3 linked regions of the Homo sapiens genome follow. The protein of the gene in region 1 interacts with the protein of each later gene in a pairwise test. Each region holds a gene or a part of one and is shown in the gene's direction. Other genes may lie near its edges. The genes, in order: GJA4, MS4A13 and OPRM1.

The links.
Region 2: the proteins of GJA4 (region 1) and MS4A13 interact in binary tests that used the Homo sapiens proteins (3 or more experiments, as listed by UniProt).
Region 3: the proteins of GJA4 (region 1) and OPRM1 interact in binary tests that used the Homo sapiens proteins (3 or more experiments, as listed by UniProt).

What each region holds. Positions count from the first base shown.
Region 1 is NC_000001.11:34,791,341-34,795,091, forward strand, and holds the start of GJA4 (gap junction alpha-4 protein), read left to right. Parts: upstream 1-1,658; 5' UTR 1,659-1,728; exon of another isoform or gene 1,729-2,006; intron 2,007-2,761; exon of another isoform or gene 2,762-2,856; 5' UTR 2,857-2,873; coding exon 2,874-3,751. UniProt on the Homo sapiens protein: One gap junction consists of a cluster of closely packed pairs of transmembrane channels, the connexons, through which materials of low MW diffuse from one cell to a neighboring cell.
Region 2 is NC_000011.10:60,513,721-60,517,471, forward strand, and holds the start of MS4A13 (membrane-spanning 4-domains subfamily A member 13), read left to right. Parts: upstream 1-1,671; 5' UTR 1,672-1,887; intron 1,888-2,248; 5' UTR 2,249-2,364; intron 2,365-3,751. UniProt on the Homo sapiens protein: May be involved in signal transduction as a component of a multimeric receptor complex.
Region 3 is NC_000006.12:154,091,187-154,094,937, forward strand, and holds part of OPRM1 (mu-type opioid receptor), read left to right. Parts: coding exon 1-286; coding exon of another isoform or gene 287-301; exon of another isoform or gene 302-622; coding exon of another isoform or gene 623-703; exon of another isoform or gene 704-771; intron 772-2,083; coding exon of another isoform or gene 2,084-2,260; exon of another isoform or gene 2,261-2,334; intron 2,335-3,023; exon of another isoform or gene 3,024-3,132; intron 3,133-3,751. UniProt on the Homo sapiens protein: Receptor for endogenous opioids such as beta-endorphin and endomorphin. Receptor for natural and synthetic opioids including morphine, heroin, DAMGO, fentanyl, etorphine, buprenorphin and methadone.

The sequences.
Region 1 (3,751 bases):
GCCCTGAGGGAGAGGCCTAGAGGGGAAGCCAGCCCAGCCGGATCCCTCAGGGCAGCTAGCCCTGAAGTTCTCAGGTCTGCGTGTCCCCAAAGATGTCCTCCTGCTGGTCCTGAAGACAGAACCCTCAGGGACCCGGCCCTGGGGCCCAGGGAATCCAAGGACTAAATCTTGCTGTGGAGGAACAGGGACTTCTGTGCCACCAGCCCCAGGCCTCAACAGCCCCCTGCCACCTTCCCTTTCCTCAGCTGCGCCAGCCCCTACCACCCTCTAAGAACAACCCACAGACCCTTTTTGTTACAGTATCACAATGTTTTTAGCCACCACTCACTTGAAAAACTTTATGTACCACTATTACACTATGTGCTTTGATCACACTGTATGCCATCAACCCCACAAAGTAGATACTATCACTATTCTCATTCTGTAGAGGAAGAAATTGAGGCACAGGGATTTGAGTAACTTGCCTAAGGGTACAGGAGTCAACAGCAAAGTCTCAGCTCCTGGGCTCAGCCACCAACAACGTCTCAGCACTCCGAGGGCAGTGGCCACAGTCTCAGAACCCCACAGCTCCAGGCCCTCGAGCCACACTCATGCCGCCCCTCTACCTAGAATGCTCTTCCCTTCCACTTGGCTAATGGAGGGGGAAAAGCATTTCCTCTCCTCCAGGAAATGTTCCTAACCAAGTCCCCTGGGAATCACCCAGTACCTCTCAGGAGAACTTTCCACATTTATTATCTTACCGTTATCCAAGGGCTGATATGCTCAATCCCTGCACCAGCCAGTGAGGGAGGAGGCCAGAGACCAAGTTTGGCTGGTTCCTCAGGGTATCCCCAGGTCCCCAAGCAGCGTCTGCAGCACAGCAGATGCTCACTGATGCTCATCCACCTGTGATGCCTGAATGCATGAAGGCAGGCTCCGCATAGCCCTTTCATTCCTATGGATGTCCCCCACACCACCCAGCCACCATTTAGAGGCATAAGAACGGGGTCCAAGCTAAAGGTCAGGTGGTTCCCCCACCCCCAGTCTCAAGGAGTCCATGGGAATTGCTTAATGGCCTCTGATTGTGTAGCCTGCCCAGACATGGGGATGTTTGAGAATTCTGGAAGAACGTGGGCTGGGCGTGGATAGAGACGCCTGCTCCACCATGTATGCTGGAGGTGTGGATTACAACCCCTGTCCCCCATTGGAGCTTCCCGCGCCGTAATTAGCCTTGATCGCCTCATCCTGGCACACTAGGGCCAGCCACCTAGCAAATGAGTGGTCCCCACACTCCATCCCCATCCGCCCACCCCTCACAGCCCCGCAGGCCAGTTGCCCAGATCCACAGCCCTTACTGCAACCCCTTCAAATCCAGCCACCCTGAGAGATCCTGGCCTGGGAGAACTCTCCTTCCCTGGCCAAAGAAACGACAGGAGAGTTTACTGTCTGGAATACCTGGTGGAGAGAGAACAGAGGAGAGGAAGGGTAGGTCAGCCCCTCTTGCCCCTCCCCACCGCAAATCACACAGGCCCACCTCCCCGGAGTGGGTTTAGGGAGTCTGCACCTCCCAGTCCCCGCCCCCGCCCTCTCTCCAGCGCCCGCCGCCCTCCCCGTCGCGTTTCCTGCCCCCACCCCGCCCCTCTGCGCTATTTAAGGCGCCCCCGCCGCTCGTGCGGTCCAGCAGGGCTCCCGCGGGCGTCACTCCGGCCATCGTCCCCACCTCCACCTGGGCCGCCCGGCAGGCAGGCGGTGAGTCGGGGGCTAGGAAGGGACCAGGGGCGCCACCTGCTCGCGGGAGGCCGGGAGGAGTCTTGGGTCCTCCGATGCCGGGACGGGGGTTGCTGCGGAACGCCCGCCGCGACAGAGCCGCGCTCACCCAGGTGGCCTTGGCCAGGCTCCCACCCTCTTTCCATGGAATCCTTGTAACAACCCGAGGCGGGAGGAATACTATTGTTTCCACTCTATCGTGGAGGAGACTGAGGGGCCCAGAGGTTGTTCCTTATCCAAGGGGCCGCAGTTACTAAAAGGCAAGATTTGAACCCAGGGCCGCTTCCAGAGCCTGGCTCTAAACAGCTTTGCACTTGGGAAGAGGCACCTCCCCCTTGGGAACTTTGTGGCCTGTGCCTCACCCTGCAATGACAATTCCTTTCAAGAGTCTAGAATTTGCCAGCATCAGCTTTGGAGGTGGAAGGGGGTGGGAGTGGAGGTGGAGGAAGAAGACAGGACCAAATGTCCCTCCTCAAGTGGCAGGTGGTCATTATTGCTGACCGGTGGAGCTAAAGGATGATGCTGCCTTCAGCTCCTAAAACCCCTTCCACTACCCAGCCCCTGCAGGCTCAAAGATTAGAGTGAAGCCAGCTGGGTAAGATATGAGGCGGGGAGCAGGGACCTGAGGCTTTGAGCCCCCTAAGAAGCAGAAGATAACACCTCTACCATCATCACTAGCTCCCACTGTCTGGGGGTAGCCAGCCTTGGGCAAAAGGGAGGAAGGGCTTAGCCCAGCTGCACAACTTTGGATAAGTTCCTCAAATTCTGTTCCCATAGGCAAAGGAGCCTCAACTCCACCCAGATTTCCTTGGCCTGTGTCCATCCTGGGGCAGTGGCTCGGGGACAAGAGGGACATAGATGTCTGATTAGGCAGGGACCTTAGCCAAAGCAGAATGAGACCATACAAAGAGGTGGGCAGCCATCATCCAAAAATCTGGGTTGGGTCCTGCCTGCACTGCTGAGTGGGAGCCTCCAGGCCAGTCCTTCCCCTTCCTGAGCCTGGGTTTCTTTGTAGGTAGAACGGGCGTGGCAGACCTCCCTGCAGGCTTGTTGCTGGGCGAACGAGAAGGATGCCATGCTGACACACTGACGTGCTCTGTCTCCTTGCAGACGGAGGCCCGGGAGCCATGGGTGACTGGGGCTTCCTGGAGAAGTTGCTGGACCAGGTCCAGGAGCACTCGACCGTGGTGGGTAAGATCTGGCTGACGGTGCTCTTCATCTTCCGCATCCTCATCCTGGGCCTGGCCGGCGAGTCAGTGTGGGGTGACGAGCAATCAGATTTCGAGTGTAACACGGCCCAGCCAGGCTGCACCAACGTCTGCTATGACCAGGCCTTCCCCATCTCCCACATCCGCTACTGGGTGCTGCAGTTCCTCTTCGTCAGCACACCCACCCTGGTCTACCTGGGCCATGTCATTTACCTGTCTCGGCGAGAAGAGCGGCTGCGGCAGAAGGAGGGGGAGCTGCGGGCACTGCCGGCCAAGGACCCACAGGTGGAGCGGGCGCTGGCGGCCGTAGAGCGTCAGATGGCCAAGATCTCGGTGGCAGAAGATGGTCGCCTGCGCATCCGCGGAGCACTGATGGGCACCTATGTCGCCAGTGTGCTCTGCAAGAGTGTGCTAGAGGCAGGCTTCCTCTATGGCCAGTGGCGCCTGTACGGCTGGACCATGGAGCCCGTGTTTGTGTGCCAGCGAGCACCCTGCCCCTACCTCGTGGACTGCTTTGTCTCTCGCCCCACGGAGAAGACCATCTTCATCATCTTCATGTTGGTGGTTGGACTCATCTCCCTGGTGCTTAACCTGCTGGAGTTGGTGCACCTGCTGTGTCGCTGCCTCAGCCGGGGGATGAGGGCACGGCAAGGCCAAGACGCACCCCCGACCCAGGGCACCTCCTCAGACCCTTACACGGACCAGGTCTTCTTCTACCTCCCCGTGGGCCAGGGGCCCTCATCCCCACCATGCCCCACCTACAATGGGCTCTCATCCAGTGAGCAGAACTGGGCCAA
Region 2 (3,751 bases), on another chromosome or scaffold:
CACATTTTCACTAATGTCTTTTGTATACTGGGAACTAATTCAAGAGAAATTAACAATATGATCCACATGGAGAAATAAAAGTCATATTGGATGTCAAACCATGACTGATTGATTGCCTCTTCATTGCTGAAGAATACAGTTTTTAACAACCAAAGGATAAAAAATTAAAGTGAATTCTGAATTTCCAAATCCAGTTTATAGGTACTGAGAAAATCAATGTTGCTTTTACTGATCTGTGATATTAGCAGAAGAAATAAGATGTACCAAGGAACCATGCCTGTCTCATAGTTTGGCTCACTCTTCTATTTTTGCCTATGTTTATACTGAAAACACATTTTGGCCCCAGTCCAAAAAAATGACCAAATCCATGATAATTTCCAGAGACTGTTGGCCAAAGCTTAAATGAAGAAATATGTCACTTCTCTCACAAATAATCAATCAGTCTTGGCAGCAAGTTACAATAGCGGTCCATCTCATCAGAACTGGCTCTTACTACTATGGATTCTAAAAAATCCATAACCCTGAGGTTGAAGACACAGTTCCTCTTTCTACAGCAAAGAGAATGCTTAATATTATCGGAGCCCTGTCTGCTCATAGACAAGGAACTCACAAAATAATAATAATGCTAGAAACTGAAGTGGTATATTACTTAAGAATAAAACTATTACCTTCAATGACATACTGACCAATACAGAATGTAAAGACTTTAGAAGAGGCTGGGCTTTTTTTTTTTGTTTTTTTTTCCTTTGATTTGAGGGGACTTTGGAGTCTCAATGTAAGGAAGCTAGCTGTGAGACTAAAAATTAAGATTCTCAATTTACAGTTGATTTTTCAGGCTATAAAAGATCTTGATGGCTTTTAGACACACTCATGATTTAGCTTTTTGCAAATAAAGGTGTTGAAAGCATAGAAAATTTCCTTATGAAAGAAAAATCTGTCTTGTTTTCTGCGTGTTTTACTCACTGGCTATCATTGACTAAAAATTTACACTACAAGCTGGAATTTTAACTATTCCACAATGTCAATTTAAATTTTCCATGAATAAATGAGAAATGCCATTGAGTGGCTGTTCTCCAGGTACTTTAAACGCCTCAGTAAGTCATGATAGCTGCCTAAGAGGATGGTCTGTACTGCTCATCTAAAGCACCTCTTCATAAACACTGTTTTAACTACTGTCTACACCTCAAACAGAAAACTAACACCACGTGTCACCTAAAAGGTAAACCCGCCTCAGCAAGTGGATCAAAAAGTCATTCTGGTGTCTTGTTAAGTATTACTTTCATCACTAATTTCCTTCTTCAGTTACTTATGTTTAAAGAAAAAAAAAGTGAGCCATTGATTTAGCCACTTCACTCGAAAGTGCACCTTCCAAAGGTGCTCTTGTGGTCAAAATTTTTCTTTGAAGACAGAAAAGGTGAAGGGCGGACTTCTCCTCAGTGATCCTGGTCACTGTGCAGCAGGTGGGTGTATAAGAAATGCACCAATATGGGCAATCTCAGAATAGAGGTTTGCAGAAACCGTTCCTAGAGGCACCAAAACGTAGTTAACCGGGTGTCTGACCACATGGCTGCCAGGAGCCTAGTGAGTCTGCGCACACGCACTACCTCCGCCCCGGCAGTTCCTGAGTGGGTGCGCAGGCGCAAGAGGAGCACACCGTTGCCATTGCAGACCGTCACTCCCTGAGGAGCCTGAGAGCCGGCCGGGTGCTGGGCTCCTGGCTATCCCTGTGATGGTAGCTCAGCGAGATCTGGGGACCTGGCGCTGAGCGCGTTGCCAGCCGGGATCTTCCTCTTCATCTAGGCCTGGGCGCTGGCGTGAGAACTCGGACTGGGTCCTGGACGAGCGCCCCCCGAAACTCCTTGGAACCTTGAACAAGTAAAATGCAGGGTAGTGATGTCGCTTTGCTGGAGTGCTTTCGTGTCAGAAGCCATAAAGGGACACGGAGGCTGATTACGGTGTTCCTCTCCCTATCATACTCTGTAAACAGTAGGCACTATTTACTACTCAGAGATGATAGCTGTAAAATGCCGATATGTTTTAGTCATAGAGAGAGACTTTTCAGTTATGAAGGCTGTTATTCAGAACAGATGGATGAAAGTTGATGCCTCTAATATTAAGGCCTAGAAAGAAGAAAGAAGGCTATTGCTTCTGAATTTGGAGAGGTGGTGACTGAACAATAAGGAAAGGATCAAACTTACGTATTTTCTTCTAAGAAAATAATGTATATGTGCTTTGTACTGTTTTGTAGAAGTTTGCTAATAAAGACATCACCAAAGGTTAAAGAGAAAATCATCTAGAGGAAATGCTGGCAGTATGGCATGTGTTCTTTAACAAATCTCTACAGCAGATTCTCTCGTTTTAGGGGTAAGATTTCACTTTGACTAACTAAATTTAAGATCATGAACTATTTCATTTTTTTAACGGATATATTGGATCTAAAGGGGGACAGACTTGGTTAAATCAAAAGGGTAAAAGTTTTTTTTTTTTCAAATGTTGATTGTCTTCTACAAATTTTGACTGATCTCATGTTCCTTCATGTGCTGAGATATGGGGATACAGACTAAACCAACACACACAGGATAATAGAGAAATCCAAGTAAGGTTTAAAAGGAAAAAAGAGAGTACTGCACTTACATTTATGCAGTAGGATGATTATAAATTTGTCTCTTCTATTAAGTTATAAACATGTGAAGTTACAGTTTAGCTTTCTTAATGAACACCAAGGAATTATGAGTATCATGCTTTTTCACATCCAAAGGGGAGAAAACATTTCCACTCGTGAACTTTTCTTCTGAATTTGAATGTTGCATAGATCAATTATCTAAGTCGCCTATACGACTGTTCAGCAGAGGTTCTTAACCTCTTTGGGGTCACAGACCATTTTGGCATAGAATGAAAACTCTGAATCTTCTTTCCAGAATTATGTACATGTCACAATCCTTCGCATTTTTTTTCCCTGGGGGCAGGGGGTAGGCGGGTCTGACCTCCTGGAACTCATATTGATTCTAGATTAAGAATCATTTTTAAATAAGAAAACCTATCTTGTCCTTCTCCACACACTGGCAGTTCTTAACAAGCATTGGCTAATTAGCTATCTCATGGTTTTATATAAAACAATAGTCAATCATTTAAAAAGAGATAGTACTTTTCAAGCTCACTTACTTTTTTAACAGTTGGGAAAGTCACATGGAATCACTATTCTTGACACCAGTATGCTTATATAAGAGGTATTTGCTGGATGCCTTCTCTATTCTGGGCACCATATTAGAGGCTGGTGATAAAACAATAAAAAAAAAAAAACTCCAGGCCCTAAGGGATTTTGCAGTCTAGTGGGAGATATTTCTCCAGGCAAATCCAAAGAATTTCTGGAAAATTACCATTCTTGCAAATTTGATGCAAGGGGAAACGTTAAATTCTAAATCTATAAAAATGCATGATCGTTACCAAAAAAGAGACTTTTTCTTAAAAAAAAAACAAAACTTCTCCAAAATGTATTTTTTAAAGTTAGCCAATTGCACTTATATATTTCATAGACTGCCTGCTTTGCAAAGAGCTGGAACTCTTAAAACATTAAATAGCTTTCTGTTTAAGTTTATATGAAAATAAAATTTATGTGTCCTCTGTCATTTTTAAAGAGTAATCAAAAATGTGATTAAATATATGAAATATCAGTTCACATATAAATTCAGAAATAAATTTGCTGGGATTATAATTATCTTCTTACAAATTAGAGTTGAGTAATAATTCTCCC
Region 3 (3,751 bases), on another chromosome or scaffold:
CTGCTGGACTCCCATTCACATTTACGTCATCATTAAAGCCTTGGTTACAATCCCAGAAACTACGTTCCAGACTGTTTCTTGGCACTTCTGCATTGCTCTAGGTTACACAAACAGCTGCCTCAACCCAGTCCTTTATGCATTTCTGGATGAAAACTTCAAACGATGCTTCAGAGAGTTCTGTATCCCAACCTCTTCCAACATTGAGCAACAAAACTCCACTCGAATTCGTCAGAACACTAGAGACCACCCCTCCACGGCCAATACAGTGGATAGAACTAATCATCAGGTACGCAGTCTCTAGAATTAGGTATATCTACTGGGGATGACATAAAAATTATAAGGCTTTGTGCTAAACTAGGAGTTTAATCCATTATAGAGGATGAGAATGGAGGGAAGAGGGGAAGCAAATTGTGGTTCTAGTGTTAGAGAAGAGGTTTGTTATATAAACTGTGTTCTTTATATTTGACTGTACATATTCATTTAGGTATAAAGATACACCAATGAGAAATCCATGAAACTATTCAAAATAACTATTTTTATGGCCTTTACTTCTATGCAAAATTTATGACTTTAGCACATTATAGAAATAATTCTGATCTAGAATCCTTTTCATTTTCCCCAGAATTATTATATAATTCATAGATGTTGCTGCAATACCCCTCTTATTTCTCAAAAGCCAGTCTTGCTCTGGTTCTGTGATTAAAGAGAGAGGGTGAGTGCCTTGCCCACTGTGGTCATGGATGCAAGATATTCACAGAAAATTAGCATCATGGAAAAGGAGAAAAGATTAAAAAATGACCATCCCTAACTTTTCTTAAGCTATTGGTTTGCTACCTGAACTCTAGCACAAATATCAAACATATTAGACTGAATAATATATTATTAATATGTGAATATTAATCTAATAAATTTTATTAGATTAAACAATTTTTAACAGACCTCATGCTTGTTGGAGATAATAGGGTGAATAGCGACTAGCTTTTGGAAGGTGTATTTCTGTGCCCAGACCTACACAGAAAATTCAAGACTTATACACACTATTATAATCATATGGGAAATCAACAAGGAGGAAAGAGAAAAGGCTGTCTCCAAGTTAGTATTACTTGATTAAGCCACTGGTTGGCTAAATTTGACCTCTGATCTATAAAATCAATCAAATACATGGCTTAATTTTTAATATTAATCTAAGTAAGTAAATTTTAAATAATGATGCCAGCATCCAAAAATCACAGCCTGTATAATTTTTTTAACAGTGAATTCAAATTCAAACTTCCTATGAAGTAAAGGCTGGAGTCAGAATCTTGGCTAAAGTTCCTAGAGTCAGGCGTCAGGACTGTGAGGACAGATGGCTCCGGAGAAATGAATAGCAAGTCAAATGATTGAGGAGCTAGGGGAGGCCTTTGCCACCACAGGGTGCAGTGGCTTCCTCCTGCTGTCTCTTGACCACACCCTGTCTCTCACTGTCCCCTCTTTACCCCACTCTGCCATCCAGCCCAGCCCAGGCTCAACCTTTCTAATTGACCAGAGGACTAATGTAATATGGCCCAGATACATCCGTCATGGGCGACATTAATCCTCATACCCCTGGTATTCAGTGATGCTCAAGGGAACACAGGAACTCACACCCCCTAGAGAGCATGAGGTAATGATGGCAGACCCACTTCCAGACAAAGGGAAATTAACTTATTATGTCTCAGTTCTAATTCCATTTCAGAAATGAATGCCAGAAAGAAATGGTTTTGACTCTGCTTCTTTTCTCTACGTTTTTTTCCACATCAAGACTGCTAAACCTACTCCTTTTACTAGGAGCTACTTTTAAAAAGTAATTGCAAAAACAGCGATTACTTTTGCACCAACCTAATGCTAAGCAGCCCTCCTATTCAGTGGCTGCTAGAATCTTGTAAGTAACTTTAAAAGGGCAGGGATTTAAATAGATTTTCACCAACCTGGGGATAACATGTTAAAGATTGCAACTTAAAATGCCTAGTCCTCAGCTAAGGATAAAATATTTTGCTTTGAAGTAAAATATTTCCATTGGAGCAAAATAATGGCCATTATAAAGTACTGACTCTTTCTCCTTTAGTGCCTACCTATACCTTCCCTGTCTTGCTGGGCTCTAGAGCAAGGCTGCTTGGTTGTGTACCCTGGACCACTGCAAGGACCTCTTGTCAGATATGACCTCCCAGCTATCCTTCACTCGTCCTGCCTTCGTGGAAATACTGCTCCCAGCCCGTCTGGTGGAGCATTTCTCCTGAGTTAAGCATGATTATTCTTCAGTTGCCCGACACTGCCCTTGACTCCCTTCCAAATTCGGCATTTTCACATCAGTATGGCTATTGTACAGCCAGATAGAAGAGAAAAGAAGCTAATTGGAGGAGTTCTGTTCCAAGTAACTAAAAGGTTTGCTTTAAAAATACATCCAATTAGGCCTTATCTTCATCGCTGCCTCTATGAAGCAGTATCAGTGTAAGATAACAGCAGAAACACATTAGCCCTCGAATTGGTTGCTGTCCCAAAATGCCCAACTGAGAGAACTGGACACAGAAGAGAGGCTGCCAGGAAAAGAGGGAAAGATGCTCTGACATATTTAAAAATTAAGATAAATCAAAGCTCCCTTTGGCTAATCTCCACTGATGTGTCATCATTAGAATTAAAGCAGTTACAACCAGACAACTGGAACAATACATAAGCTGCTAGTGATAGTTTCAATAATATATCAACATAATAAAATGACTTGAAGGAGAAATTGGAGACTTGATGGCTGTGTCTATAGGACATGTTAAGTTAGTTGTACAAATCCAGAATGTGATAAACAGGTGTTTGGTCGTTGTTTCACATCATGACCCATCATGTTGGAAAACAAAGCTAATAGGATTTGCATTTAACTTTTCAACTACTTGTTTGAAGTTTATATTGGTTGTGGATGTTTATGTTCTGCCTTATGTATTTGTACTTTCTTTGAGGAATATATTATACTCTATATGTCACATTTCAAGCACATTAGTCAACTTCATATTCTGCAGATCAGAGATCCAATATCAAACCTTCCCAGGGTGTCTGTATTCTGACAACTGTCCACTGAGGCAATTTCCATACAGCGCAAAGTGGAGTGGCGATTTGGCAGTTATCAAGGTAATTTGATAAGCCAATGAGAAAATTCTGTGCCCAAAATAAGCTTAGAGTCATACTTACACAGTTAAGAGCTGCTCAGTCAGCTTTTGTTACATTACAAATCATTCCAAAATGTAGTGGCTAGAAGCAACCATTTATTTAGTTTACAATTCTGTAGAACAGCCATTGGAGCTGGGCTTGGCTGGACCGTTCTTCCAGTATTGGCTGGGCTTGCTCGGAGGGCAGCTGCCCGATGGGCGGGTGGTCAGCTAGCTGATCTACATGGCCTCAGCAAGAATGACTAGCTCCACATGGACTCTTACCGTCTAGCATGTTACCCCAGCCTTGTTCTCATGGTGGTCACAGATTCCAAGAGAAAGAAAGAGAGAGAGAAAAGAGGAAAGCGTCTTTTGGCATAGAGTAGGAATTGGCATACGGTCAACTCTGTGGTTTTATAGGTCAAATAAAGTCATCCTGCCAACCTAGATTCAAAGGGTGAGAAATTAGACTCCATCTCTTGCTGATAGGATCTGCAGTCACATTGCAAAAGGATAGGTATATAGGGAGCGAATAATTATGACCACTTCTGCTAACAATCCGTAGTAAGGACATGCTGCATGAGACAGGGAAGCCATTACTT